Linked DNA regions of Homo sapiens: regions 1 and 3 are each linked to region 2. Evidence: fine-mapped expression QTL. A gene starts in region 2. Each other region holds a variant in brackets. All regions are shown on one strand. Distances are between the middles of the regions. Region 1 has its middle 11 kb from the start of LINC01656. Region 2 holds the start of RTL6 (retrotransposon Gag like 6). Region 3 has its middle 26 kb from the start of LINC01656.

The links.
Region 1: its variant is fine-mapped to the expression of RTL6 in whole blood (TOPMed, PIP above 0.99). The same link has a PIP of 0.9 or more in T cells and blood mononuclear cells.
Region 3: its variant is fine-mapped to the expression of RTL6 in whole blood (TOPMed, PIP above 0.99).

The regions. Positions count from the first base shown.
Region 1 is chr22:44,449,080-44,459,367 of GRCh38, forward strand. No RefSeq gene overlaps it. Among named protein-coding and RNA genes, the nearest start is that of LINC01656, 11 kb to the left of the region's middle. RefSeq lists enhancers at 1-967, 436-575, 6,508-6,657. The variant A/G (reference allele first, on the strand shown) is at 6,499.
Region 2 is chr22:44,493,239-44,503,526 of GRCh38, forward strand. RTL6 (retrotransposon Gag like 6) reads right to left here and starts at 4,995. Exons shown (of 2, transcript NM_032287.3): 1 at 4,806-4,995; 2 at 1-4,573. The coding sequence starts at 4,318. The coding sequence ends at 3,599. RefSeq lists enhancers at 2,111-2,888, 2,889-3,666 and silencers at 4,926-5,055, 5,146-5,205.
Region 3 is chr22:44,464,661-44,474,948 of GRCh38, forward strand. No RefSeq gene overlaps it. Among named protein-coding and RNA genes, the nearest start is that of LINC01656, 26 kb to the left of the region's middle. The variant G/T (reference allele first, on the strand shown) is at 5,102.

The DNA of each region.
Region 1 (10,288 bases), 44 kb before region 2:
CCCTGACCTGTCAGCAATGCCTCTGAGAGACGGTGGGCAGAAGGGCAGTCATCCATGGATCCCCGAGCCAGGGCCCTTGCACATGACCTCAGATGAGAGGCCGATGGTGCCAAGGCCTTCTGAGTCAGGCTTGGGTTCAAATTCCTGCTCCACCACTGGGTGATGAAGTACAGGACCTCCTTCCCGCGTGGTTAGAGGGCACTCCGCACCCTGTCCATCCTGGTAAGTCACTTACTTTGGCCAATGGAATCAAGTGAATGCCATGTGACCAAAGGCCTTAAGAGTGCCCTTGAGGTTTGCACTCCGGTGATCGGCCCCGAGATCGGCTGGAGCAGCCTGGGCCAGGAGCTGACCCAGACCCGTCCCTGTCGACCGCACACAGGCCGAGGTTGAGTCACCCGGGCAAAGCCAGTTGGGATCAGCGGAACCACAGTCAACCTGCAGACCCGGAAAAGGGGAAATCACATGCCTGCTGTGCGTGCTGCCCAGGCCTGGGGTGTCTGTGAAACTGGCTTAGTTTGGAAATTCCTGACTCATTCTCTGAACTGCTGATTCATTCTCTGAGCTTCGGCATCTTTGTCTATTAAATGCTCCCTCCTTTCAGGGTTCCTGGAGCATGATCCGAATCAACCATGCTTCCTTTGAAACCCCAGGGTCGCCTGCAGAACAGATCTGCTACATGGGTGCATGTAGCCCCCCCACGCTGGAGGCTCTTTCTCTGCATGTCTGTCTCCCCTGAGGGACCAGGCCGTGCTCAAGGCAGGGCTGGATGGGCCCACATCCCTGCCCAGTGCCTGGCCCAGAGCCTGGCTTGGAGAAGGCGCCCAGGAAATGTCAGGTCCTTGCCACCAATAACCCTGCCTTTTAGGGCATTGTGTGGGGTCCGTCCATTGTTGAATCTGGAAGAACCCCCGGTGCTGTGGGGCCATCCCTCCTCCCTGAGCATGCGGGCACAGGTGCCAGGGCTGCCCATGCTGCATGAGGATTACAGGAATCCTGAAAGCAAAGGCTCGGCTTTGGGGTGGCTGTGGAGGGTGTGGCTTTAGCAGACTGGGAATCCTTTACATCCCAAACCCAGGACGCAAGCAAGGCTGGGTGTTCATAGCCTCAGCACACTGGGGCCTGGTGTCACCCTCAGCCCGGCCATCTACAGAGTCAGAATGCACCAGCCAGGGCAGCAGACAGAGCAAAAAAGACCAGGAAAGAGCCCATAAACTGGGGGTAGCATCCGGACCGTGGAACCGGCCGCCACCAGCATGAGTGGAATGGTCACCAAGAGCTATGAGGTCCCAGGGGGACTGCCTGGTCTGTTTCATCCCCTGCACACATCGCACATCAGGAAACTGAAGCTCAGGAAGGGCATGGCATGGCACATGTGAAGCCTCGGCTCAGCCAGCGACAGACTAGATGGGACAGGATCCACCAGGCTCACCCACAGGTTGATCAGTGTGCAGGGTCTCAGAGTCCAGTCTGAGCAGCCTTAGCTGGGACTGTCCATGCCATCCTGTCCAGCGGCCCCTCCCAAGTCCTGGAGGGAAGGCCACCTGCTCTGAGGGTGGGGTCGGGATGGTGACGGTGAGTCACAGTTGCCACCAGGCCAAAGAGACAGCCTCTATGTGGCCTTTCCCAGGCTGCGGGATGACAGGAGCCATGCCCTGGTGGCAACCGCTCCATGTCTGCAAGCTTCGAGATCGCCGTGCAATTCCAATCTGGGAAGGCCCCTTATAAGGAATTCCATTCTGGAAAGTCGCCGCCAAGCCAATCACTGAATCAAAAGGAGGAAGTCAACCTCTTCGGGTGGATTAAACCAAAGAGACATCCTGGGTACCTGTTATATGCTGGACACTCTTCTAGACTTGCTATTTAAACATGGATTCTTATGAGACAGGCATGATTATCCCCATTTTACTGATGAGAAAACTGAGTCCCAAAGAGGTGAAATAACTTGCCCAGGACGAAGTAGTAATATGAAAATGGAGATCTGTCCTGATTGTTCATTCATTCATTCATTCAATATATTTTTGTGTCTGATCTATGCCAGACACTGTGCACCTGAAAGGCCTCGCCTGTACCCTCTGCACCTACTGCCCCCAGCCTGCAGGCTGCTTGTTCATGCCTTCACGGCATGTTTGCCAAGCGCTCTGTGTGCACCACAGTCCGGCAACCTGTGGGAGACCCTGAGCCAGGAAACCCTTCTGAGCCCCCAGATGCCTGACCCCAGAAACAGCGAGACCATGGATGCTATTGATTTAAGCTTAGGGGTGATTTGTTATACAGCAATAGGTGACTCATAACTGGCACACACAAGATTCAGGCTGGGGAGGTCATTCTTGACAGAGTAGGAGCATTGCCATCTTGGACGAGCACCTTGATCAAAAACTGCCTAAATCCAAAGGGCATCAGCCTAACGGCCAAGGTCAGCATGACCATAAACCAAAAATGACATCCCTTCCTTCCTTCCTTCCTTCTTTCCTTCCTTCCTTCTTTCCTTCTTTCCTTCTTTCTTTCCTTCTTTCTTTCTTGCTTGCTTGCTTCTCACTCTGTCGCCCATGCTAGAGTGCAGTGGCATGATCTCAGCTCACTGCAACCTCCACCTCCCGGGTTCAAGTGATTCTTCTGCCTCAGCCTCCTGAATAGCTGGAACTATAGGCACCTGCCACCACACCCAGCTAATTTTTTGTATTTTTAGTAAAGATGGCATTTCACCATATTGGCCAGGCTGGTCTTGAACTCCTGACCTCATGATCCACCTGCCTTGGCCTCCCAAAGTGCTGGGATTACAGGCGTGAGCCACCACGCCTGGCCTCCTCTTTCTTTAACTCTTACAATTCTTCCATTCCACCAAGCAGGAAGCCAAGCCAAGGGGAGTGGGGGGCACTCAGGACCCAGAGTCAAGCTGGGGGGTTGGCCTCTGATATGGTTTTGATGTGTGTCCCCTTCAAATCTCATGTTGGAATGTGATCCCCAGTGTTGGAGGTGGGGCCTGGTGGGAGGTGTGTAGGGCACAGGGGTGGGCCTCTCGTGAATGGCCTGGTGCCTTCCTCGCAGTAATGAGTGAGTTCTTGCTCTGAGTTCACACAGGTCTGGTTGTTTAAATGAGTGGGACCTCCCTCTCTATTGCTCACTCTCTCCATGTGATTCGCCGGCTCCTGCTTTGCCTTCCGCCATGATTGTAAGTTTCCTGAGGCCTCCCCAGAAGCAGATGCCGGCTCCATGCTGCTTGTACAGCCTACAGGACTGTGAGCCAAATAAACCTTTCTTCAGAAATCACCCAGTCTTGGGTATTCACATTCCTTTATAGCAATGCAAATGGCCTATTCCAGCCTCCTAGCTCTGTTCCTTCTGGCTCTGTAAGTGACTTTCCTCTGAGCTTTGTTTCCTCATCAAGAAAAATGGAGAGGCCTCTCCGTAGGGGTGTACAGGGGGTCAAGAGAGGTCTTGGGGGCTGAGCCTCAATGTGGGTCTGTGTGATGGGAAAGATTTTGCTTTCCGGTTGTTGTCCGGTTTGCTTTCTACAAATTTGTCAGCTGCAAGCTCTCTCCCTGAAGCTGCCTTTAATTGGGTTGAGAAGGCACGATTTGCCAGGTGAATGAGTTGAGAGGGTGGGTCGGGGGCAGCTCCCTGGTGCCTGCTGCACACTTGCACCTGGAACAAGTCTCTGGCACAGGATATATGGTCCTTCCCACCACTGGTTGGGTTGAAGGAGTCACAGAGAGAAGGGTGCCCCTGTCCACCCTGCAGTGCCCACGGCCGATACTGTTATGCCCCAGAACAGCCGGACCTACTCTTCCTTGTCTGCCCCATTCCAATTCATCAGGGCTCAGATAAGAGCTTATCAGATATTATGAAATCACTCATCCACACAGACCAGACAGAGGGGCTGCCTCAGAGAAGCAGAAGGTTCTAGGATAGAGGCCAAGCCCAAGACAAACAAGTTTTTAGGTGATGCTGGAGAAGAGAGCCCACCAGCACTGGGGAAGAAAGAACCAGGACTTCTGGTTCTCCTCTCACTCCAGGTGCACACTCCTTTGAAATCAGGGGTGACCCTATGACCTGCTCTGTCTGCAGAAGTGATGAGTCACCTCCAGGGAGAAGCATTAAGGACCACTCTGCCTACCCCTTTCCACTGTAACGGACAGGGTGGCCCCGCACTCCCGACTTGCTGCTCCGGGATGTTGGTGCTCCAGTCAGCTGGGGCAGCTGAGCCATCCCTGGGAGACTGTGGCTCTGGGGAATCACCTGCACCTGTCGTGGACTTTGCTTGGGCAGAAACACATGTTTGACTGAAGCCACTGGGACTTTGACAGTTTGTTCCTGCAGCATCGTTGAAATCAACCTGATCGATGCAAATATATTGTCAAGTTGAAATGCAGGTTTCAAAATGGCATTGATTCATCCATCAGTTATTCATTGGGCCCCCACCTTCCCACCCCATGTCTGCAATTTCCAATTCCAGATTTAGGGGAGGGGGCGTTTAGAGTCCAAATCCCTCCCCCAACACACACGTAGGAAAACGAATGTGGGGATAACAGGGCCGCACTGTGGCGATGGCGGTGAGGCAGGGAATGGCAGTCCTGGTATGCAGTAGGGCCTCGCTCAATCTCAGCTCCTTTCTGAACTTTTCCTGCCCACACACCTGTCCTCGGGCCTCATCCAGGTGTCAGGGACAAAAAGCATTTTAATAGGGCAGGTATTATCATGTGGGCCCAGGACAATTCCTCTATATTAAAATCACAACCCAAACCTCTGTGAAGGAGACTCAGGCTATGTCAGGGCAAGTGGCCATGCCTGGGGACCACAGCATCACTGCACTGCAAGCTCCGGATTCCCACAGCCTGTGAGCTCCCCATGTGACCACCACAGCACAGGCTCGGCTAATTGGGTCCATGTGATGGGAAAGATCCCATGTGACCACCAGAGCACAGTTGGTCTATGTGATGGGAAAGATTTTGCCTTCCGGTTGCGTCCAGTTTGCTTTCTGCACATTTATCAGCTCCGAGCTCGCTCCCTAGAGCCACCTTTAATTGGGTTGAGAAGGTAACATGCGGAGCCGGCTGCATGTTGGCAAAAGCGCTTCTGCTGGCCTTGGATGGGAGGCTGGGGAGTCTAGACTGTCCCTTCATGGGGGCACGTGTGTTGCTGTACCATGATACTCGGGTGTGTGGATGCCCTTCAGGGTCCCCTCGATTCCGGGACCTGAGGGTTTGTGTGTCCAACTCCTTACTGAGGAGCCACAGCTCAGGGAGGGCAGGGGAAGGCAGAGGGTGCTGCCCATCCACGACAGCAATGGGGCTGCCCCTTAGAACCTTGCTGAAGTGGCCTGAGCCCTGTCACCCTTGCTATGGGACATCCAGTGTCCTCCCCATCCCAGGCACACGGACCACAAATAACTTCCCTTTTCTTTTAAGCTAGGGTTGCATTTCTGTTGCTTGCAACCTCAAAAGTCTATGCTGGCCGATTTGCAATGACTCAAAACTTGACTGCCTTCTTGCTACCATGGTACAGGGACAAGGGCCCAAGTAACTCTGGGAGCTGTTGGCAGCTATAAGGAAACCCCACTGGGGAAAAGCCCCTGCTTGGTGAAGGATTGATATGAGAGAATTACAGAGGAACATCTGGAGCACCAATGCCATTGAGAACCTCTAAACCAAACCACACCAGGAGCCTCTCTCCTGCTGGACATCTCGGTCCTGTGAGCTAATTTCTCTTTATTATTCTTTCCCTGTACTATGATAACTTCCATCCAGATTTGATGGAAGGACTGTAAATATTCCTGGAATGAGATCTTGAACTGGGAGATGAAGGCAGTCCCTGGAAGGCTGGAAGAGATTTTGGTTGTCTTCTTTGTGTTTATATGGATGTAGGCAACTTTGAATGTTCATGGGAAGAGGAAGGATCTGTATGAACCTTGGGTAGCCAAGGGCTGTGAGGACTATAATAAATAATCGTCACCTCCTAGCATTATTCTCCCTTCCCACCGTCCCCTATGTCCGTTTCGATGTCCAAGTAAACTGGCTCTACTCTCAGTCCCAGGGCTGGAGCATGTGATCTGATCTGAACCAGTCAGTGTATTCCATCCCCTGGCCTAGTAATTGGTTCCAATTTGGGGGTGGACTGAGATTGGTCCGATAAGAGTAATACCAGCCTCTGAGGAATGACTTGGACCTGTAGTGATATTTGCATGAGACAACGAAACTCTGTCTCTCTCAAAGGATGTTAATGAGGAGGCATGCAGGCCTGGGAGCCACTGGCAGACCTCTTTGGACTCTAAAGGGAGCCAGCTTTAGGATGAATCTGATGTCATAGAAAGGAAAGTAGAGGGAAAGCAAAAAACAAAAGTAGATATTCTGTTACATCATTGAACGGCTGAGTCACACTTCACCTGAGCCTTTCGGTTTAGCAAACGAATGTCATCTTGACATTTACTTTAAAAGCCCATTTGGGTTCTTGTGGTTTCCTGTTCTTTGCAACTGAAAACATCCTGAGCAGGTGGCTACC[A/G]TTATTATCCAGATTTTGAAGATAAGAAACTGTGGCACAAGAATATTAAGTGATAGGCCCAGGGCTACCGGGCTGGTAAACAGAGGTGGTAAACCCAGAACATGCAATGGTAGCCTCAACATATAACGATTGGCCACTTGCCATTTTCTTCTGCCTTTAGGAGGTTGGTCCTCTGCACTTCTGGTCTCCACTTGACACCCAGGAGGAGGTACCATCACACCCCAGGACCTGCTGTGCTGGCGTTGTGTTTCTGCCGGAGTCACCTCTGTGAGTCGCGGGAGAGCCAGTCACCTTCGTATGTGTGCACACGCATGCACGGTCACAGAGGAACGTGCCTCCAGGGGTTTACCGTGCATGAATACCCGGACTATTTGGATGCTTTTCTTCAGGTTCTGTAGTTCTCATGGTCATGAAGCCCTCCACTAATAGCAGTTCATTTTCTTGACTTATCTTTACAAAAATAGGGTCATAGGATTTTCCCACTTTACAGGGTGAGCAAACAGAGGCTCAGATGAGAAACCTGACTTACCACTGGTGGCAGAGTGGGAAGTCAAATCAAGACATCAGTCCAGCATTTTTGACTCATCCACTCGATCATTGGTTTTTAATCTTAAGACGACCATGACCCACACTCAGGGCAGAGAGTGAAATGGAGGGAGAGAATGAAAGCTTAAATTTAGGTTTAGAAATAAGCAGTCCAGGCACAGTGGCTCATGCCTGTAATCCCAGCACTTTGGGAGACCAAGATGGGCAGATCACCTGAAGTCAGGAGTTCGAGACCAGCCTGACCAACATGGTGAAACCCCGTCTCTACTAAAAATACAAAAAAATTAGCCAGGCGTGGTGGCAGGTGCCTGTAATCCCAGCTACTCAGGAGGCTGAGGCAGGAGTATCACTTGAACCAGGGAGGCAGAGGCTGCAGTGAGCCGAGATCGCACCATTGCACTCCAGACTGGGCAACAGAGTGAGACTCTGCCTCAAAAAAATAAAATAATAAAATAAAATAAAATAATCAGCTCTCAGTCCAGGAAAAAACCCTGGCTGGAGAGGGCCTAGATGTTCTGCACCTAGAATGATGGAGCCCTAGACAGGGCTGAAACATCTGTTGCTTCCTGATGCTGTTCAACCTGCTCCTGAAGATTCAGATGAGCCTCTTTCCAGAGGCTCAGAGGGTACATACGAACAGTTTATTCCTGGGACACTGAGTTTCGAGATGCCTTCCTGTTCAAAAAGAAGGCTGGGAGTAAAGCCTGGTAGGGGAGGTGCAGATGTTGGTCGGGACCCTTCAGATAGTTGTAGAGGGGGATGCAAGCTGGAGGGGAGGTGGTGGAGGCCTCAGGGACCCGGGGAGAAGGCCTGGATGGGCAGAGACTCTGGGAAGGGCCTGGAAGCCTGTCCGCAGATGTTCCTAGAAAAGCCCCATCATCTAGTTCTCCTAGACCCCAAGCAACTTTATAGAGCACATTTTAAAAGATATCATCTTGGGCAAAAGCTCCTTTTGTTCACTAGATCTTATTGAAAGCATCCCCAAATTTTAAATTCTTCACTTTGAATGGAAATCATATAGAAATATTATCACTATGTGCACTGAGATTTGGATGACCCTAAATCATCATTTTGAAGAAAAATGCTGAAAAGGCAATTATGTTTGAGCTAAAATAACAAAATGCATTAAACGTAAGCAGAATGAGTAAAATATCCTTACCCTTTCAAAAGAGAGAGACAGAAGAAAGGGCTCTGGCCCAGCACTTAACAAATCTTGGTTCTGTTTTTTTGTCACTCATTCATTCAACTCTTCATTCCTTTTTTTTTTTTTTTTTTTTTTTTTTTGAGACAGAGTCTCGCTCTGTCGCCCAGGGTGGAGTGAAGTGCCACAATCTCGGCTCACTGCAACCCCTGCCTCCTGCGTTCAAGTGATTCTCCTGCCTCAGCCTCCTGAGTAGCTGGGATTACAGGCGCCCGCCACCACGCCTGGCTAGTTTTTGTATTTTTAGTAGAGACGGGGTTTTACCATGTTGGCCAGGCTGGTCTTGAAATCCTGACCTCAGGTGATCCTCCCATCTCAGCCTCTCAAAGTGCTAGGATTACAGGCGTGAGCCACCATGCCTGGCCTCTTAATTTAATAAGCATTTGGTGAAAGCCTGTCTTGAGTTACGTACTGGCTATAATCCACAAAGAAGCTTCAGCTCCTGACCCGAAGGAGTTTACAGTGTAAGGTGCATTCAGTCCCTCAACCAACAATTGCACCATAGGCCGTGCTCTGTAAGGGATCACAGAGTCCCCCGGCTGAACGAGTTCAGGGACAGCCTTTCCCGTGATCTGACATTTAATGCAGGACCTTAGAGATTTTCTAGAAAAAGGCAGAAGGAAGCCTGGAGGAGAGAAAAAGTGATATCTTGGAACATGCATCTATATCTGGTGTGACTGCAACCACGTGTAGTATGTGGTGTGGCGTGTGTGTGTGCATGGGTGTGTGGCGTGTGAGTGACGAGTGTGCTGTGTGTATGTCTGGTGTCTGCGTGGGGTGTGTGCATGCACGTGTGTGCATGTGTTGGCACACAGGGAGGTTAAGCATGGTGGGAGGAGGATAAGCACGGTCCGGGTGACATCGGAGACATCCCTCCTGCAGCTCAGGGAGCCCTGGGGAGCTAGTGTGCCCACTGGGAGCATCTCCCTGTGCCACCTCCTCTGGGCCCATCTGGACTGGCTCCAAGGCAGGATGGGAGGGCTGAGCTCGAGCTACCCTATCTCCCAGCTGTGGGATTTCTCTAGGCCCTGCTCCCCTCAACCTCAGGTGGCTGTCTGAGAATTCAGTTTCTAAAGACTCCATGAGCCACAGGCAAAAGCCAGGGTCCTTACTCAGTCACAGCCTGAAATTTGGCTGTCGGCCTCCAGGCTCTGGTCTCTTAGCAACCAGCCATGTGGGCCCAGGGCAGCTGCAGGGCTCTGCTCCAGGCGGGCTACACCCAGGGGCTTTGGAGTGGGTCCCCAGGCCACCTCTGGCAGCTGAGGTGTGAGGACGGCCAGGCACCGTCCCTCTAGCCTTGACCTCACTCTCCTGGTTCCACCCCCAGCCCTGCTCCTGCACCTGAGCTGGCGTAGGAGTGCTGCCACAGCTCTGCCAAGCCCTGGGCGATCGGCCCGCGGGCCCTGGTGGAAAGAGCCTCTCTGAGCAAAGCTGCTGCATTTTCTCTTCTCCATGTTCAGTGTGCCCCACATGCTCACGTCTTCCTACCAAGCCCCCAAAGGCTCCAGCTTCTGCATGAGCTCCAGGGACCGTCAGCCAGGTGCTCTATTCCCAAGGGATGAGGGCTGGTGGACCCCATGCCTGCATCTGCCCATCTTCATCCTACATATCCTTCCAGGCCCAGTTCAGACACCACCTCCTCTATGAAGTCTTCCCCAGTGACCTTGTAGAAATTTCCCTTCACACGAGCCCAAGAGGCACCTCACTCTCATTCTGGCTTTTGCCCACAACTCAGAAGCTGGCATTACCTCTGCACCCACGAAGCCAGTCTTCCAGGTGCCCCATGTGGCATGTGGGCTTTCCTGGCTTTTCTTCTCATCTTCACTGACTGGGAAGTTGGTTCAACGGCGTCTCACCCTTGACAGGCTCAGAGACTGTCTTGCTCCAGGAAGTGAGAGAGAGAGAGTGTCTCAGAGAAGACCCTGATTGGCCAGTTTGGGTCACATGTCCGCCTCTGAGCTACACCCTGTGGGCAGCCCCAGGCACACACCTGCTGCTAGGATCTGCAAGCCCTATGATACAAGGCCCTACCAAGAGCACCAC
Region 2 (10,288 bases):
GAGACACCAAAATGTGATGTTTTATTTCCTTCTTTCCTCTACTTGCAAAAATTTATCTAACATGTGGTTTACATGGGTAATGAGAAGACCTAGTAGGTTTGGTGCTTGTGTATGCAAAGGCATGAGGCACACGGAAGTGAGGAGCTGGGTTTCCTCCCATCTCTACCGCATCTGCGCTGTGCCAACTGCCACCCCACCCAAACTCAGGTCCCCAAGAGACAGAGACACAGGGGCTGTCTGTTCCACGTGGAAGGCCCTACACCCCAACCTTCTCCCCTACTCTGGGGAGCTTCTCCTGTTGGCCCAACAGTCTGCTCTTGCTTCCCTTACCCAGGAGACCCACCTTGTGCCTACCTCTCTAAGTCCCTAAACCAGTGCTTTCCAAGCAGAGGTGCCATGAGCCTTACAACTGTGGTTGCAGATGGAGGCGCCTCCATTAGGATCTCTTCCCTCTTCCACCCAGAGCTCTGCCCCCAGTCAGTGGCTGCAGCATGGGCCCTTTTGTCCAATCCCAGGGCTTGTTCCCTAAGTCAACCTCAGCACATGCCCAGCTCAGCCATGTCCCTTCACTCCCCTACAGGCTGGAACTGCCAGGGTGGTGCCCACCCAAGGCGGCTGTCTGCCATGACAACAGGAGCGTGTGCGTCAGGCTGGTCCTGCCGCACTTTCTGGGTTTTGTTTTCCACTCCTCCTCATTGCTCATCACATACTTACCTGGGGACAATGAAATAGGTCTTTGCTATTCCCTAGAAGTCACCAAAATGCTTTAGGACATTAAGTTAGTCCCAGGGTCACACTATACTAGGCCAGGGAGTCACCCCTTCACTAACTCCCATCTCCAGTGATACCCTGGTATGCACTGAAGCCTACTTACCAAAGGGGTACCATGTGGACCAGACAGCAGTCACAATACAGTCCAAAGAATGTCAAAACCATGGAAAACAGAACTTTCCTTCACATGCACTGTTGAACACTACTGCCTGTCCCTTTTATCAATCAATACCCGTTCTCCTAAAATTTAGAGAAATTATAACCCCAAAATATGTACAAAGCATCTCCCTTCCCCCACTTTCTTAGCCTGATCCCCTATCACTGAGGTCTCCCTCTGGGGCTGCGCCTCATCCTCCTTAGCTGGAGACTAACGTATCTTCCACTAGAGCCACCATGGGGTCCTCACCTCTCCAATGTGGGCTTCTTCCAAGTCCAAGGTGGAGGGCAAGCCCCGACCCTCTCTCATCTGCTCCGTGTTCCAAAGTGCAGGGAGCTATCAAGAAGGTCCTAAGTGCATACCAGCACTCGTCCCAAGCCCACACACATAAGCACCAAGAGAAAAAACACAAATCACCATGCCAAACAAAGGTGGAGCAGCTGCTTGGATTGGGTGCCCATAGGCAGAGGGCCCGGCTGCAGTTGTGGACAGGGAGTGTGTGGACAGGGAGTGTGTGGACAGGGAGTGTGTGGACAGGGAGCGTGGCCGGCCTTTCCTAGGCAGCTGTAGGATGTGAAGCAGCACAGGCCTGACACAGACATGGTAGGGCTTTCAAAAAGCCACTCGAGTAGAGTGAGCGCTGGCGACACAGCAGAGTTCCCACCCTGCTTCCATGCTGGGCTGGGCCACATGGAAACCTTCCAGGTGCCTTTTCCCAGGTGCCACTGTACCCCTTCACTTGGGGGCACCTCTCCCTGGCAGGTACTAGTCTTACCAATATAGCTGCTGGAGACAGAACAGAACTGAGCACAAAGAGAAAGTGATCTGTACACCTCCCATTCATGGAATGGTGGCCCTGCTGTGTGTCTTCCCTCCGATCACGCTTAAAGAGCACCATGGTCCCACCTGAACAGCCTTGGCTGGAGTCCAGGGGAACCTAAAGCCTGTATTCAGGCAGTTGTTCAGCAGGGCAATTGGGCTAACAGAGTTGATGGTGAGTGGGTGGCAGTAGTCTGCGGACCCCAGCAACCACTGAATGTCCTTGACCTTGCAAGGCAGCGGTTCTTCAGAATCGCAGTCACTTTTCCCAGCATCATCAAAACTCTTAAGAAGCCAGGCCCAAGGACCCAATCTCTGGGATCCCAAGACATATACATGTCTTTAGGTGGGTGCGGAGGTTGTCCTTCTGCAATCAAGCCAAGACCCTTCAGACAGGGGCAGCTGAGCCCAGGATAGGAAGCCCTATGGTCCAGGTCATGTCAATGTGGTTCATTTGGCATTGAAATATGGCGGAACAGCACAGTCCAAAGGGCGTGGCCAAACTCAGCCACAAAATGATTTCTTGGTCATCCCCCTGTGAGGAAGGATGAGGTCCTTCAGAAGGAGGACATGCATGCCAGTGCTGCATTGTCACCACACTAGGACCACGGCAGTCCACAGCTCTTTGCTTTTACAAATGCCACCAAGACCCTGGCTGGGTTGCCAGAGGCAGACACCCCCCCCGGCCTTAAGTGCTTAAGGATGTTTCCCGAAGGGAGTCTGTTTTCCCTTGGACAAAGGCAGCCCATCTGATTGCCCAGGCACGGGGAGTACATGCTACAAGGTGCCTTTGGAGACCCACAGATGGTGCGTGGGTGGCTGCAGGGCTGCAGTGAAGGCCACATGGCACCTGAATAGAGATGGGAACAGGTCTCAAGCTGGGCAAGGCTCGCCATCAGTGACAGGGGGTAGAAGCAGGAGTGACTGAGCATCAGCCGCTGTGGCACTGCCCATGGAGATCCTGGGCAGCAAAGGGAGTCGCTGGTATCCACCCTTAGCCTGCTATGACCCTCAGGCGTGGGTGTGTAGGAACCTGCAGCCTGATAGACCTGCCCAATGGCTGAGAGTCCACCACGACCTTATTTAGCAGGCAAGTTCCAGATTCCCCAAGCCTCTGGCTCCATCAGAACACCAGCAGCTGAAGTCAGGCATTAACAGAGGTGCAACATTGGTCCTTCCCAGTGAGAGCAGTGGGGCCTCCCAGACTGCATATTCATGTGCAGAGTGGAACCTGGCCCCCAGACATGGCAGAACTACGCTCCTTGCAGCAACCACTCGACCACTACAGCACAGATGAGGCCCTGCCCGCTGCACCGGGCCCTGGCAGGGCTGGGAGGCATCTTGGGCAGGAAGCCAGACCCCCTCTCCAGGTACACCCATCAAGCCACCAGCCTGGCCAAACGGGCATCTTTCTGTCCAGAGCTCATCAATAGGAACTGGGCAACCAGGTGGGGAGCCGCCAGGGGAGCTTGGAGAGGGCAGAGTAGGAGCCTCCATGAACCAAGTCAGGCTGGAAGGGGTCAGCCCTCGTGGTCCGTCAGCGTGCGGCGGAGTCCCTGTGCCTAAGTAGCAGAGCGGTAGTCATTGAAACAGGCCGGGATGCCAGCAAGAGGGAGGCGAGCATGCAGTGAGCGATAGGTACAAAGCTAGCACGTAAGAGGAAGCACGGCAAGGTGGGCAACCAGGGCGCCAGGAAGGACGGAAGGAAGATCTCCTCGGGGAACACGTCTGGAGAGGCAAGAAGGGAGGTCTTCAAACAGGGGCAAAGCTGTCGTATGGGCATTTCTTCTACACAGCAAAGAGCGTATGCTACCTGGGTGGCTGCAGACGCTACCAAGTGCTGGCGGATTCTTAAAGATTCCGTGCTCGGGCAGGCAGGGCTGGCGCTGGACTAGTCCCGTTGGAAGCTGGATGCACTGGGCAAGGCCCCGTGCCCGCAGAGGCCAGCTGGCGGCAGAGCATCTGCCTCTCTCGCACAGCCCTATTAGAGGCAGAAGTCTTCCTGATTTGGGCGCGCCGCGCATGCCGGAGCGGAGACTTGTAGGTTCTCCGCAACTCTGCCAGGAACCCCTGATAGTTGTTGCGCAAGGGGCTGTCAGGTTGCATGTGGGGGATAGCCCACTTCTCCGCCTCCCCAGTCAGTCGAGACACAAGGAAGGCCACACGCTCGGCCTCACCCGGGAAGCGGGAGGCCTGGAAGATCATGAATCTGTCCATCTGCATCAGGAACCCCGCCAACCGGCCTGGGTCCCCGGAAAAGGGCTCGGGCAGAGAGGTTGGAGGTGTGGTCATGGGTCGAGTCCCGTTTGAAGTAATTGAGGAGATGGGCGGGGTGATCTGCAGAGCCCCCGGGATCCGCGCCCTGGTGCGTAACAAGGTCAGCTCTGCCATCACGCTCTCCAGCATGTTGGTGAGATTGGCCTTCTCCGCCCGCAGGGTGGAAGCCTCCCGCCTCAGCGCCGAGTTGGTGAGGCGCAGGGAGGTCAGGGTGTCAATAACGTCATCCATCTGGGCATTCGGAGACGCTGCCAAGGCTGGGCTTTCAGCTTTGGACGTCTGCGGCTGCACCATGCTGGCCAGAGGTCAGCCACACGCTGAGATCCGCGGGTGGACCAAGAGGGTGTGGTGACCAGGTGGGCCCCTGTAGAAATGGGGGCAGTGTGGGGTGCACGACGGCAGGGCGCTGCGAGACCCCCAAGCCGAGGGCCCGAGAGAGGGGCACGCGGTGCCAGGCCCTAGGGACTTCGGCCCCGGTCCCACGCGGCTCCTTTACTGCAGACTTCGCGGACTACGGAGCCAGACGGGTGGCTGGACCTGCTCTGGGCCCTGGAGGATTAAGAAAAGATGTTTTCAAGGTTTCAGTTGCGACTAGCGGGCAGGAGGGTGAGGGGCGGCGTGGAGGGCCCGCGCGTGGGTGGCGAGGCTGCACAAAGCCCCGCGGCGCCCGCCCCGCGCCCGCCCGGGGGAGAACAAAGGGGGCTGCTCCTTGGCGGCCGCGGGCCTGGGGGCCACCACAGTGGCGGGGCCCGGCCGGGCAGGGGGCCGGGGGCACGCGTACCTGGGGTCTCGCGGTTCCTCCGCGGCTCTGTCCGCCGCCGGCCGTGACCAAGATGGCCCGCGCGGGGGACGCGGCCAGGCCGATGAATCACCGCGCGGACCGCCGAGAACTGCTTCCCGGTCAGCGCAGCCAAGCGACGGCGCTGGCGATGGCGGCGGGCGGCCTCCGGCAGGTGCAGGGACCGGGCCAGGCCGGGGCCGGGGCAGGGGCGGGGCCGGGGTCGCGGCAGAGGGCGGGTCACCGCGCGGCCTTTGTGCGGGCGGGGCCGGCGCGGTGGCGGTGGCGGGCGGGCCTTAGGCTGGCCCCGCTGGTTGCCATGGATACCGACCGCTCCCGCGCGTGCGGAGACGACCGCTGCCCCGCCCCCGGAAGTGATGCACAAAGTCCCACCCCCCCCCACCCCCCAACTCGGGCTGCTGCCAATCGGGGAAGACTGTAGTTGCTGCGGCGTCTTCATCAGGGCGGGTACCTGGTGTTCTCCCAGTCATTCCTCCCAAGAGGGCTTGCAAGGCTCTTTCTGTGGTTGTCATTGGGTTTATTTTTTTGATGATTTACTGTTCTTCTTATTTTTTTTTTTTTTTGAGACGGAGTCTCGCTCTGTCGCCTAGGCTGGAGTGCAGTGGCGCGATCCTGAGTCACTGCAACCTCCGCCTCCCGGGTTCAAGCGATTCTTCTGCCTCAGCCACCCAAGTAACTGGGATTACAGGCGCGTGCTACCATGCCCGGCTAATTTTTGTATTTTTAGTAGAGACGGGGTTTCACCTTGTTGGCCTGGCCAGTCTCCAACTCCTGACCTCAGGGCATCCGCCTGCCTTGGCCTCCCAAAGTTCTGGGATTACAGGCGTGAGCCACTGCATCAGGCCCTTATTGTGATTTGAATATAAATTTAATGTAACAAATCTTGATGTAAGAGAAGTAAAAAAAACTTTATACTACTCAGACTCCCTCCACCTAAAGATAGCAAATAGTAATACATATATATGTAACGTAGAGATAGTAATATTTCTGTACTTCCATCCAGTCATTTTTCTATGATATGTTCTACAAAATATTTTTTACCTTATGAATATTTTGTAACCATAACAGCACATTGAATTTTGAGCATTTTCCTATTAAAGATAGTTCAGAAGCATGATTTTCAGTTATTGCCTGTGGTCCATGGAACTCCTGTACCGCAAAGTATTTAGCCATGCCCTTTTTGATAGATCCTTATCTTGTTTACCATGCTAAAGTTTTATAAACTACACTTGTATATAAATCCCCACCCTTTTCTCTGCTGGGTTCCCCAGAGTAAATACCAAGGAGTGAAGATACCTGGCTGATATGGTTTGGCTGTGTCTCCACCCAAATCTCATCTTGAGTCGTAACTCCCACAATTCCCACATCGTGGGAGGAACCTGGTGGAAGGTGATCGAATTATGTGGGCAGGTCTTTTCTGCACTCTTCTTGTGATAGTGAGTGAGTCTCAAGAGATCTGATGGTTTTAAAAAGGGAAGTTTCCGGCCGGGCACAATGGCTCACGTCTGTACTCCCAGCACTTTGGGAGGCCAAGGCGGGTGGATCACGAGGTCAGGAGATCGAGACCATCCTGGCTAACATGGTGAAACCCCGTCTCTACTAAAAATACAAAAAATTAGCCAGGCGTGGTGGTGGGCGCCTGTAGTCCCAGCTACTTGGGAGGCTGAGCCAGGAGAATGGCGTGAACCCAGGAGGCGGAGCTTGCAGTGAGCAGACATTGCACCACTGTACTCCAGCCTGGGCAACAGAGCAAAAGTCCATCTCAAAAAAAAATTAAAAAAAAAAAAAAGGGAAGTTTCCCTGCACAAGTTCTCTCTTTGCCTGCCGCCATCCATGTAAGACCTGACTTGCTCCTCCGTGCCTTTCACCTTCTGCCGTCATTGTGAGCCTCCCCACCACACAGAACTGTAAGTCCAATAAACCTCTTTCTTTTGTAAATTGCCCAGTCTCAGGTATGTCTTTATCAGCAGCGTGAAAACAGACTAATACACTGGCCAAAGGGTAAGAACTGTTTGATTCCGGGTCTGGATTCCCAGCTTGACCTAGGTGATCCTTCTGCATGGTCAGTTTCAAGCTGGCATGGCTGGAGAGAAAAGATACTGAGAAATAAAAATAAAAATTTAAGCCCCCCCCCCCCAACCAACTGAACAGACCCCCTCTTGGCCAGGGGACCCCAGAGAAACCTGGGAAGCCGAGTTCCTGGCCATGATGGGATGGGAGGTTGGACACACTTCATTATCTGCCCCCGCTCCATAACCGATAACCACCATTAGGCTTTTTTCCTTAAGAGTTAAACAGAAACAAGCCTCTTTGAAAGACTTCAACATTGATACCAACCAACCATCTGACACTGCCCCTCCCTTTTTGTGGCACACAACAACTGACCAGCATTCTTTCCTAGTAAGAGACCACCAACCCTGGAGTGGTTCTGGCCAGCCTGTGGAGGATGTGCAGTGAAAGCTTTTGTGTCCTCTGATACACCTTTTGACATTAGAGGGCTGAAAACTCCACCTTCAGATCACGCTAACACTGCCATTTTTTGTAGGTGCTACCCATGAAGGGGGATGAAGCTCAGTTGCACATGTGCATATTTCTCTTCTCATAAATATTTATAACTCCTCCTGTAGCTTATTGAATATGTATATTTGGCCACCCTGATCAACATAAATTCCTGTCTTACTCTTCCAACCCTTGAAGTGCCTGTTTATGGCTTCTGGCCAGAGGCTACACTTCCCAGCCTATTCAAATGGCCACTCTGCAGGGTGCAACCTTTTATGATAAATAAAACTCTCCTTTCCAGGTTTATGAACCTCGTCATTCTTCAGTTAACAATACCCAGTATGCCAGTCTTTTGAGGACACAGTATTCAAGGAGGCTGAAGCTGGGAACCATCTGCACTCTTTAGGCAGGCCTGGGACAGAGCTGGATTCACTCAGACCTGCAGTTTTCACTCAAGGGAATTAGGGCATAAGGATGTTGTTACTGAGCAAGTGGTCTTGCTGCCTGATGCACACGGAAGCCGATACATATGGCACCAGCTTTTGAGAAAAGAAAAGCTTTATTGCAAAACTGACCAGCAAGGAGAGAGGAGGTGGGCTCAAATCCGTCTCCCTGATTTGAGGTATGGGGCAAGTTTTAAGGGATCAGGTGGCAAGAGAAAGTATTTATCAATGCTGGCTTGCCAGGGTCTGATTGGAGGGCTTCAAATTTGACCATATGTGGTAATGTATATTAAAGTAGATTTTAGCCCCAGACCTTCCAGGCTGATGGACCCCTTTGCTTGTGAATGAGTTCTGGTTTTCAACTTCTGGTCATGTCCCAGTCTTCTTGGTTCTAAGAGGACGAATCATTGGTTCTGGGTGTTGTTGGAGGTCAAAGTTTTTTCTACGGCACATGCCCAGGCTACATGACTTGCAGTTTTGGGCTCTGTTCTACCTAAAAGGCAGCTTGACATTTTGTTACCAACAGGGTAGGCCCAGTTTGGGCTGGTCCCACAACTACAGTGTCAGAACTTGGAAAGGATACTTGTACCCCAGTGTGCCAAAGTGTGCACCCTTTGTGACCAGGTGAAAACTTCTAGAGCATGAAGCAAGAGGGAAATAAAGAAGACTGTGTGTCCTTAAACTTCTTCCATGAGACCTTCTAAATCAGATGGGGGCAGGAGCTGTGTTAACCTTGACTGAGGTCAATGACTTCAAAAGCAGAAATGAGCCTGCAGCCTTCTACCCCTCCAGGTTCTTCTAAACACACAGAGGAATCCCATCCACTCGTGGGAGTCACTCCATCTGTCTCTCTGTCTCTCTGTCTGTCTAGGCCCCTGGATACTGGGCACATTAGTGAAGTGTCTGCTGCAATTCTAAGTGTGGTTGACACCATGAATCTTAAATTCCCAGGTGCATTGAATATAAGATGCACCCCAATTTCAGAAATGATAAAACATTTAAAGAAATAAATAATTTATCTGTATTTCACTTTACTTCCAAGGGGAAATTAGATGGCAGCCCATAAAATAGAGCAAAATAAAAATTAATGGACTTTTAAAAGTAAAAACAGGAGAAGAATATTTGGCTTCTCATCCAGATGAAGCTATGATTCATGCCCTGAGGTGCCTGTCTGGGCTGTGAACACAGAACAATAAAATATGCAAAGAAAATATTGAAAGGATATAAGTGGGCTCCAATCGATAAACAAGATAAACTTCACAATGGTCCAGAAACACAAACTTCTGAGTATTGACGTGGGCCTGCCGGGCTCTGGACCTGAGACATAATAGGGACCCAAGGCTGGGAACACAGCCAGGCTTCCTATTTGAATCCAGGGGATGGAGGAGAGAGGAGTCACCCCTGTGTCAGAAAAAAAGTCTGAAAAATTGGATTCAGTCATTTCATGGGGGTGGGGTGTGACAGTTTATGTGAAAGTGTGGCCCTGGGTCAAAGGAGAACACAGATATAGTCATCTTAATCTCTTGTCCCCTGGTTTAACAAGTAGACCAAGAGGGTCAGGATTCCAAACCACCAACAAAATATATATACACATATATATTATACACATATATGTATATATGTATGTATATGTGTATGTGTGTGTATATATAATATGCATATATGTGTGTGTATATATATATATTTCTTTACCACAGACCAGACATCAAGTGGACCCACCCCAAACTGCTAGATGGGGGAAGGGAGTACCAAGAGAGAAAGAGAGACAAAGTCTTTCAACACAAAATGAGTCTGAGATTCAAAATTCTGAAGCCCATGAAGACATCTTATGCTAAGAATAATAGTCAAGAAAAATCAATAACTGTAAGGTGAATTAACTCCAGAGGAAATTAAAATAATAGAAGAGTCTGAAAAAAACAGACTTTAAAGTAAGTATATTTGGGATGCTCAGTGAGAACAAGGAAGGAATAATATTTGTGAAAAGAACAGATTGTGGAGAAAAAGCCATATTGTACCAAGATCAGGTACCTGTGAAAAAGTACCTTTTAAAAGAAAATGTAGTTGATTTCCATTTCCAGTGAGATGGAGTAGATGCACTCATGCCTATTCTTTGCAGAAAACGTATCGAAAAACAGCTTTGAAAAAAAAAAACCACAAGATGCAGTAGGTGGAGAGAAGGCACCTCAGGACCTAAGGAATAACACTGTGGTGAGTTCCTCGAGTTTTCTTTTGCATCATATAACCCAGACTTGGAGCTGAAGAAGCTGGCAACCCCGAAATGCCAATGGGTGCAGACAAAAAAAAAGCACCCCCTCCATAAAAGCCTGCTCTCTCTAGACAAAAACAAACAAACAAATAAACAAAGTGGGGGGCAGGGGCAGCCTAGCAAGAGAGGAAACTTAGACAGTGATCACTCTACTCTAGCCAAACACTGGCAACACTCCTCAAATTTATCTACAGACTCAATGTGATCCCTATCAAATTTCCAGCTGCCTTTCTGCAGCAACTAGTGTGCTGATTCAG
Region 3 (10,288 bases), 29 kb before region 2:
GGCTGGTCTCGAACACCTAGCCTCAAGCGATCCTCCCACCTTGGCCTCTCAAACTGCTGGTGATGCAGGGCAGGCAAGCTCTAAAATTGGGACTTAGCCTGGGAGGGTTCTTGACTTCACCTAAGAAAGAATTCAACTGTGAGCCAGTGATGTTAGACATCAACACTTATTGAAGTGGCAGTGTATGGCAGCAGCAGAGGTACTACTCCCTGCGGAGCAGGACCACCCCATAGGCAATGTGCCCAGAGTAGCAGCTCAGGTGTAGTTCTGCAGTCATAGTTATACCCACTTTTAATTACATGCAAATTAAGGGTCAGGTTATGCAGAAATTTCTAGGAAAAGGATGGTAACTTCTGGATCATTGACATAGAAAGGGGCAGTAACTTCCAGTCTTGCCATGGCAATAGTAAGCTGACATGGCATTGGTGGGTGTGTCTTATGGAGACTTAAGAGTGCTTTTGCCTCTTCCTTGGTTCAGCTAGTCTTCAATCTGGTCCAGAGTCTAAGCCCCACTTCTGGAGTTGAGTCCAGCCTTCTACCTGAATATTTAAGAAACCAAAGATTTACCCCCAGATTTCCTTCTAAGAGACTTATAGTTTTAGCTCTTAGGTCTGACCCATTTTGAGTTAATTTTTTATATGGCATGAAATAGTGGTCCAGCTTCACTCCCTTGCATGTAGATAGTCAGGTGTCTTAGCACCATTTGTTGAAAAGACTATTTTCCCCATTTAATGGTCTTAACATCTTTGTCAAAAATCAATTGACTATAAATGTGAAGATTCATTTCTGGATTCTCAATTCTATTTCATTGATATATATGTCTATTCTTATGTCAATACCACACTGCTTTGAGTACTGTAGCTTTATAGTAAATTTTGAAATAAGGAAGTGTGAATCCTCTAACTCTGCTCTTTATTTCCAAGAGTGTTTTACATATCCTGGATCCCTTAGTGTCTATATAAATTATTGGGTCAGATTGTCAATTTGTGCAAAGAAGCAAGCCTGGATTTTGGCAGTGATTACAATGAATTTATAGATCATTTTGGGAGTATAAAACAATATAAATTATTATATAAAAATATAGATATAAATATAAATAATAAATTAAATTAATTATTAATTATTAATATAAATTAATTATTAATTTATTAATAATAAATATTGCAAATATAAACAATAATAAAAATTATTGTGATTATATAAATTAATTATATTAACAATATTAATTACTCTGATCCATGAACATGGGATATGTTTCCATTTATTTAGATTTTCTTTAATTTCTTTCAACAATGTTTTATAGCTTTCAGAATATATATTTTTTACTTCTTTGTTAAGTGTATCTGTAAGTATTTTGTTCCTTTTAGTGCTATTGTAAGTAAATTTTCTTAATTTCATTTCAGATTGCTCATTGCTATTGTATAAAAATATAATATATTTTTGCATATTGATCTTGTGTTCTGAAACTTTCTAAACTCATTTCTTAGTTCTACTTTTCGTGTGTGTGAATTGCTTAGGATTTTCTGCACAAAAGGTTATGTAATCTGCAAATAAAAATAATTTTACCTTTTCCTTTCCAATGCAGATTCCTCTTTTATTGCCTAACTGTCCTGGCTAGAACTCCCAGTACAATGTTGAACAGAAGCAGTGAGGGTGAACTCTAATCCTAGTCTGAGTATTTTTATCATGAAAGAGTGTTGAATTTTGTCAAAAGCTTTTTTTTTTTTTTTGAGACGGAGTCTCTCTCTGTCACCCAGGCTGGAGTGCAGTGGCACGATCTCGGCTCACTGCAACCTCCGCCTCCCAGGTTCACGCCATTCTCCTGCCTCAGCCTCCCGAGTAGCTGGACTACAGGCGCCCGCCACCACGCCCGGCTAATTTTTTGTATTTTTGGTAGAGATGGGGTTTCACCGTGTTACCCAGGATGATCTCGATCTCCTGACCTCATGATCCGCCCGCCTCGGCCTCCCAAATTGCTGCGATTACACACGTGAACCACCACGCCAGGCCTGTCAAATGCTTTTTCTGCATCTATTGAGATGGTCATGTGGTTTACTGCTGTACTGATATGGTGTATTATACTAATTGTTTCTGGGTGTTAAATCAACCTTGCCTATAGGGATAAATTCCAAATGGTCATGGTGGACAATCCTTGTTGGATTCTATTTGCTAGTATTTTATTGCAGACTTTTTGTATCTATATTCATAAAAGATATTAGTCTGTAGTTTTGTAATGTCTTTGTCTGGTTTTGGCATCAGGAAAATAGTAGCCTCATAGAATGAGTTGTGAAAGTTTTCCCTCTTCTTTGATTTTTCTGGAATAACTCATAAATAATTGATATTAATTCTTTCTTAAATGTTTGGCAGTGAAGCAATTTGGACCAATGCTCTTCTTTGTGGAAAGTTGTTTTCTTTTAAAAAAAAAAAAAAAAGTTACTAATTTAATCTCTTTATTTATCTGTTCAGATTTTCTATTTCTCCTTGAGTCAGTTTTGGTAGTTTGTGTCTTTCTAAGAAATTATCCATTTCATCTAAGTCATCGAATTTACTGGCATATGATTGTTCATAGTATTTAAATGGCATCTTTTAAATTTCCATTTGCTGTTTGTTTCTAGTATACAAAAATACAACTCACTTTTGTATATTGACTTACTAGACTCTCTAATGAATTCCAATAATGTACCTGTAGAATCTCTAGACTTGCTACATGCATGAGCAAATTCTCTGTAAATAATGATGAATCTGTTTCCTCATTTCCAATCCTTATGACCTCATTTCTTTGTATTGCCTTACAGTAAGGCTTGATTTTCAGTCCAATGCTGAAGAGAAGTGGGGGAGCAGGTATCTTTATCTAGCTGCCAATTTTAAAAGGAAGGTTTTCAGCATTTTACCAATAAATACATGTCTTCTATAGTTTTTGTAGCTACCATTTATCAGATTAAATTTTTTCTTTTTTTTTCTTTTTCTTTATTTTTTTATCATTTTGAGACAGGGTCTCACTCTGTCACCCAGACTGGAGGGCAGTGGCATGATCGTGGCTCCCTGCAACCTCTGCCTCTCCAGTTCAAGCGATTCTCGTGCCTCAGCCTCCTGACTAGCTGGGAATATAAGCACGCGCCCCCAAGCCCAGCTAATTTTTGTATTTTTAATACAGACGGAGTTTTGCCTGTTGGCCAGGCTGGTCTCTAACTCCTGACTTCAGGTCACCCACTTGCCTCAGCCTCCCAAAGTCTCGGCCTCCCAAAGTGCTGGGATTACAGGCGTGAACCACTGTGCTCAGCCTATATTTCTAGTTTTCTAAGAGTTTCTTTTTTCGTAAATGGAGTTTGGGCTTTGTCAAATGTTTTTTCTGCATCTATCGAAATGAACATTTACTTTTTCTCCTTCAACTGTTAATGTGGCAAGTAACATTTGAGTTTACAATGTTAAATCTACCTTGTAGGTGGGTCACTTTTCTAATGTTTTGTTTAGAATTTTTGCATCTGTGTTTTGCGTGAGGTTGCCTGTAATTTTTCTTTCTTGTGTTGTCTACCCTCTTCTCTTTTTCATATCAAATTAAATTGGCCTCCTAAAATGGATCAGGTAATCTTCCCTTTTTTTCTTTCTCTAGAAGAGGTTGTGTATTAGAAGTGTTATTTGCAGGGCAGGATTCTCTGGTGAAGCCATCTGGACTTGGAGTTTTCTTTGTGGGAAGGTTTTTAGTTAAAAGTCAATGGTTATAAGATTATCCAGATTTTCTTTTTCTTGTGCCAATTTTGGAGCATGTGTTTTTCTAGAAGTTTATCCATTTTATGTAAAGTTTCAATTAAATTGCTACAGTTTTTCCTGATAGCCTCTATTTAGTTTCCTATAGCTGCTACAACCATTTATCACCAACTTGGTGGCTTAAAACAACACATATTTATTATTTTACAATCTGGAGGCCAGAAGACCAAAATGGGTTACACTGGGCTGAATCAGGGTGTCAGCGGGGCCATGCTCCCTCCAGAGGCTCTAGAAATGCACCCATTTCTTTGCTTTTCACAGCTTCCAGAGGCCACCTATACTCCTTAGCTTGTGCGTAGCCACTTCTCTTATCTTCAAAGATGCCATTTAAATACTATGAACAATCATATGCCAATAAATTAGATGACTTAGATGAAATGGATAATTTCTTAGAAAGACACAAACTACCAAAACTGACTCAAGGAAAAATAGAAAATCTGAGCAAATAAATAAAGAGATTAAATTGGTAATTTAAAAAAAAATCCCACAAAGACGAGCCTTGGTCCAGATGGCTTCACTTCCAAACATTTAAGAAAGAATTAATACCAATTATTTATAATTGGTATTATAAATGCCAATTAACTATGGTGATGGTTGCAGAACCCATTATAAACCCTCCAGGCTCTGCTTCCATCACAGACTTCTCTTCCAGTGTTAAACCTCCCTCCACCTTCCTCTGGCCTGGAATACTTGTCCTAAGCACTTGACTCTATCTGGCTATCACAGATACATGCATGAGATCATCATTTGTGCTGAGAGTCTCTAGGGAAAGAGACTCAAACAAGTGACTCCTTGTCTCTTAAGTGTTTTCAAAGAATTAATTGCTGATTTCATTAATTTTCTCTTACTTTTTTCTATTTCATTAATTTCTAAGCTCATCTTTATTATTTTCCCCTTTCTATTTGGTGTTTGTTTGTTTGTTTGTTTGTTTTTGAGACGGAGTCTTGCTCTGTAGCCAGGCCGGAGTGCAACGGTGCGATCTCCGCTCACTGCAACCTCTGCCTCCCGGGTTCAAGCAATTTCCCTGCCTCAGCCTCCCAAGTAGCTGGGACTACAGGCGTGTGCCACCATGCCTGGCTAATTTTTTGTATTTTAGTAGAGTCGGGGTTTCACAATGTTGGCCAGGATGGTCTCAATCTCCTGACCTTGTCATCTGCCTGCCTCAGCCTCCCAAAGTGCTGGGATTACAGGTGTGAGCCACCACGCCTGGCCTATTTTTCTGGTTTTATGGTTGTATTATTATTTTTTATTTTTTTATTTTTGAGATGGAGTCTCACTCTGTCACCAGGCTGGAGTGCAGTGGCACAATCTCAGCTCACTGCAACCTCCTCCTCCC[G/T]GGTTCAAGCGATTCTCCTGCCTCAGCCTCCTGAGTAGCTGGGACTACAGGTAGGTGCCACCATGCCCAGCTAATTTTTGTATTTTTAGTAGAGACGGGATTCCACCATGTTGGCCAGGATGGTCTCGATCTCTTGACCTCGTCATCTGCCCACCTCGGCCTCCCAAACTGCTGGGATTACAGGTGTGAGCCACAGCACCAGGCCTGGTTTTATTTTTGAGGCATCATGTTGTCTGGGCTGGAGTGCAACAGCGTGACCATGGCTCACAGCAGCCTCAATCTCCCAGGCTCAAGTGATCCTCCCACTTCATCCTCCTAAGCGGATGGGAGTACAGGTGTGCACCACCATGCCCAGCTAATTATTATTTTTATTATTATTTTGGAGAGACGGGGTCTCACTGTGTTGCCCAGGTTGGTCTCAAATTCCTGAACTCAAGCTATCCTCCCACCTCGGGATCCCAAAGTGCTGGGAATACAGGCATAAGCCACTGTTCCTAGCCCTGGTTTGATTATTATTTTTTTTAACTCCTTAAGATGATTGCTTAGCCCATTGATTCCCAGCCTTGATTATTTTCTAAAGTAAATATTTATGGCTGTAACTTTCTAAGTGCTGCTTAGCTGCCTCCCATATGTTTTGATGTGCCTTGCTTTTATTTTCATTTCATTCAAAACATTTTCTAATTTGCATGATGATTTTTCTTGACCTGTGAATTACTTAGATGAGTATTTCTTAATTCATAGTTGCTATCTTGTGTCAGATTTTTATGTATGATTTCAGTCCTTTAAAGTGTATTAAGATTGTTTTATGGCCAAAAATGAGGTCAATTTTAAAATAATCTTTCGTGTGTGCTTGAAAATAATGTACATTCTGCAGTTGGATGCAAATTTCTCTATATGCCAATTAGGCCAAGTCTGTTGGTGGTGTATTTCAAATCTTCCGTATGCATACTGATTTTGTGTCAGCTTATTATACCAATTACGGAGACCTTGCACTAAGACTGTGAATTTGTCTGCTGCTCCTTGTGGTTCTGTCATTTTTCTTTAGCTATCTTGAGGCTTTGTTATTGGGTACATACAAATATACAATTGCTATATTTTTCTGATGAACATAACCTTTATCATTATAAAGGGCTTATGCTATCCAATGACTTTTCCTTTCGTGCTATTTTGCCTACCAGACGTAAAGCTAGACTGACTTTGTTCTGGTTAGTGTTTGCAGGGTATGTGTTTTTCCATCCTTTTACTTTTCACTTTTCCGCATTCTTAAGTTTTACATGTATCTCCTGAAAACAGCATGTAGAGTTTTGAAAACCCATCCTGACAAGCTTTGTCTTTCAACTGGAGAAACTGCCCATGTAGTTTCAGTCTAATTGCTGATAAATTTCCCTTTTTCAATCCTACTTTGTATATCTATCTAACCTCTTCTATGTTATTTTTCACTCTGTTCTTGCCCTTTGGGATTGATTATATATTTTATTATTCCATTTTTGTCCTGTCTTAGTTTGACAATTCTATTGCGGCTTACCTAGAAATTTCAATACCCTTCCTTTTCTTGTTAGCATGAAATATTAATTGCTACTTTTCCACTTCCCCAGGAAATGCAAGGATCTACGATCTGTCTAATTCCATTACCCCCTTTCCAAGTTATACGCTCTTGTGTTTCTATATGTTCCATATATTTTAATATAATATACTCCATATATTTTAAGCTCCATAAGAATGTATATACAGTTTGTTCTCATTTCGGTTTTTTAAACAACTTTATCGAAATATAATTTGCATACCATATAGTTCCGCTGTTTAAAGTGTACAATTCAATGTTTTTAAGTTATTTGCAAAGTTCTGCAACCATTACCATAGTTAAATTTAGAGCATTTTTATCATCCCCAAAAGACACCTTGTACCCATTAGCAGCCACTCCCCATGACCCACCTCCCAACTTCTCCTCACCCTCCTCCTTGCCCCTAGCAAACACCAATTCACTTTCTGTGTCTGTAAAGGGCCTAATTTAACATTTCATATAAGTGGGGTAATAAAACACACAGTCTTTTGTGTCTGGCTTCACTGTGCAGAATGTTTTCAAGAGCGCCCATATTATAGCATATTTCGGCACTTCATTCCTTTTTATTGGTGAATAATGTTGCACTGCAGAAATATAACCCCTTTTGTTTATTCACTATTGATGGATGTTTATGTTTTTTCCATTTGTTGTCTTTTATGAATAATGCTGCTATAAACATCTGTGTAGAAGTTTTTAGGTGGACATATGCTTTCAATTCTCTTGGGTATATACCCAGAAGTGGAATTACCGGGTCATACACTAAGTCCATGTTTAACCATTTGCAGATCCACCAGACTGTTTTTCAAAGTGGCAGCGTCACTTCACATTCCCAGCAGCAATGTACGAGGGTTCTAATTTCTTTACATCCTCATTGCTGTAGTTTTAATGATGGGGTCCCTCCAAAATTCGTGTTGAAACCAAATCCCCGATGATACAGCAGTGTTAAGAGGTGTGGCCTTTGAGGGGTGAGTGGAAGTGGTACCTTTGTAAAAGGGCTCAAGGCTGGAGGGAGGGCTCTCTTGCCTTCTGTCTCTTCTGCCGTGGGAGGCCACAGTATTCCTCCCCACTAAAGGATGCTACAACAAGACGCCATTTTGGAAGCAGAGAGCAGCCCTCACCAGACACCAATCCTGCTGACACCTTGATCTTGGACCTTCTGGCCTCCAGAACTGTGAGAAATAAATTTCTGGTCTTTATAAATTACCCAGTCTATGGTATTCTGTTGTACTAGCACAAACAGACTAAGACAGAAATGGGTACCAGGAGTAGAGTATTGCTATATATGTATATATATATACATACCTGAAAATGTGAATGTGGCTTTAGAACTGGGCAATGGATAGAGGCTGAAACAGTTTTGAAGTGAGTGCTGGAAAAACCCTGTATTTCATTAAGGGAAATTCTGGTGAGGGCTGGGTCTTCCCAGAAAAGAGCTGTAGAGATTATCTGAGTAGGTCAAGCACAGAATGTTGGTAGAAACATGAACAGGAAAGGCCATTCTGATAAGGTCTTGGACAGAAATGAGGAATTTCTTATTGGAAACTGGAGGAAAGGCCATCTTTGTTACAAAGTGGCAGAAAAGTTGTCTGAATTTTATCTGTGCCCTGCTGCTCTGTGAAAGCAGAATTCAAAAGTGATGAACTAGGATATTTGGCAAAGAAAAACTCTAAGCATGGCTGCGTGGCTTCTCTTAACTGCTTATAAAATACAAGAAAAGAGAAACGAGTTAAAGACAGGATTCATTATCAAAAGGGAAGCAGAACATAAAGATGTGGAAAATCTCAGCCTGGCCATGTGAAGGATGAAACCGCATGTTTAGGGGAGAAAATTAAGGGTATGGCTAAGCTACACTTGGATAAAGAGATTAGCATGGATAGAAGGGAGGCAGATACTATCCATCAAAGCAATGGAAAAATGGCCCATTTCAGAGTCAATTGATGGCATTTCAGAGATCTTCCGTCCTCAAGATTTCAGAGATCTGCTACAAGTCTCACAGGCCCAGAGGGCCACATTCTTGAGGGTAGCAGAGTTCAAAGGGAGGGTTTCAGGATACTCACGGGACGTCAGAGCTCGCTGCCCACTGCTGCCTCAAGTCTCAAAAATGCTCCCTACATTTTTGTGCAGTGCTCCTTGGCCACCCCAGCCATAGCCCAAGTGGACCCAGATGTGGCTCAGGCTGCCACTCTAGAAGGCATAAGCAATAAGCCTTGGCAGTATCCACTTGGTGCTAACTTTGCAGGCAGAGCTCATGCACAGAGAGTGTATGAGCTGTGGATCCATGGCTACCTCAACCTAGATTTCAAAGGATATCTCAGAGAGCCTCGGGGCCCAGGCAGAGAAATGCTGCAGGGGCAGGACCACTGCAGAGTCCCCACTAGGGCAATGCCTAGTGAAGTCAGGGCCACCACGGAGAGCCCCTACTAGGCCAGAAGAAAGGGGCACCAGGGGAATGTCCAGTGGGGCCACGGGAGTGGGGCTGTTCTCGAGACCTCAGAACTGTGGAGCCATTGGAGTATGATCCCAGCCTGGGAGAGGGGCAGTCACCAAACTCCAACCCATGAGAGCTGCTGTGTGGACCACCCAGCAAAGCCATTAGGGAAGGGATCCCTGGAAACGTTAAAGGACCAACTCCCACCTAAGTGTCTAGAAGGCAGGACATGGAGTCAAAGAAGATTATTCTCAAAACTTTAAGTGATTTTTTTTTTTTTTTTAGAGACAGGGTCTCACTGTGTTGCCCAGGGTGGCCTTGGATTCCTAGATTCAAGCATTCCTCCCACCTTAACCTCTCCAAGTAGCTGAGACTGCAGGCACACACCACTGCACCCAGCTCAAGCTCTAAGGTTTAATGTTGTTTTCCTGTTGGGTTTTGGATTTACTTGAAACTTGTTACCCTTTTCTTCTTGCCTATTTCTCTCTTTTGGAATGGCAGTACCTATCCTATACTTCTCCCACCATTGTATCTTGGAAGCACATCACTTGTTTGATTTCAGTCTCACAGCTGTAGAGGAATTTGCCTACGGATGAATGGTACCTTGAGTCCCATCTGTATCTGAGTTAGATGATATTTACATGAGACTTTGGACTTAGACATTAAAGTTGATGCTAGAATGAGCTAAGAATCTTTGAGGCTGTTGGGATGGAATACATGTATTTTGTTTGTGCAAATAACATGAATTTTGGAGGCTAGGACAGAATGTTATGGTTTGAATGATGGTGTCCTCTCCAAAACTCACGCCCAGTGCAACAGTAAATTAAAAGGTGCAGCCTTTGGGAGGTGATTAAGACAGAAGGGTTCTATGCTCATGATTGGGATTAGCACCCTCTCTTGCCTTCTGTCTCTTCTGCCATGTGAGGCCACAGGGTTCCTCTCCTCTGGAGGATGCTGCAACAAGATGCCATTTTGGAAACCGACGGTAGCCCTCACCAGATATCAATCCTGCCGGCACCTGGATCTTGGACTTTCTAGCCTCCAGAACTGTGAGAAATAAATTTCTGTTCTTTACAAATTACCCAGTCTGTGGTATTCTGTTACAGGAGCAAAAATGGACTAAGAGACTTACCAACATTTGTTATTGTCTATCCTTTTGATGATAGCCATTCTGGCAGGTGTGAAGTAGCATCTCATT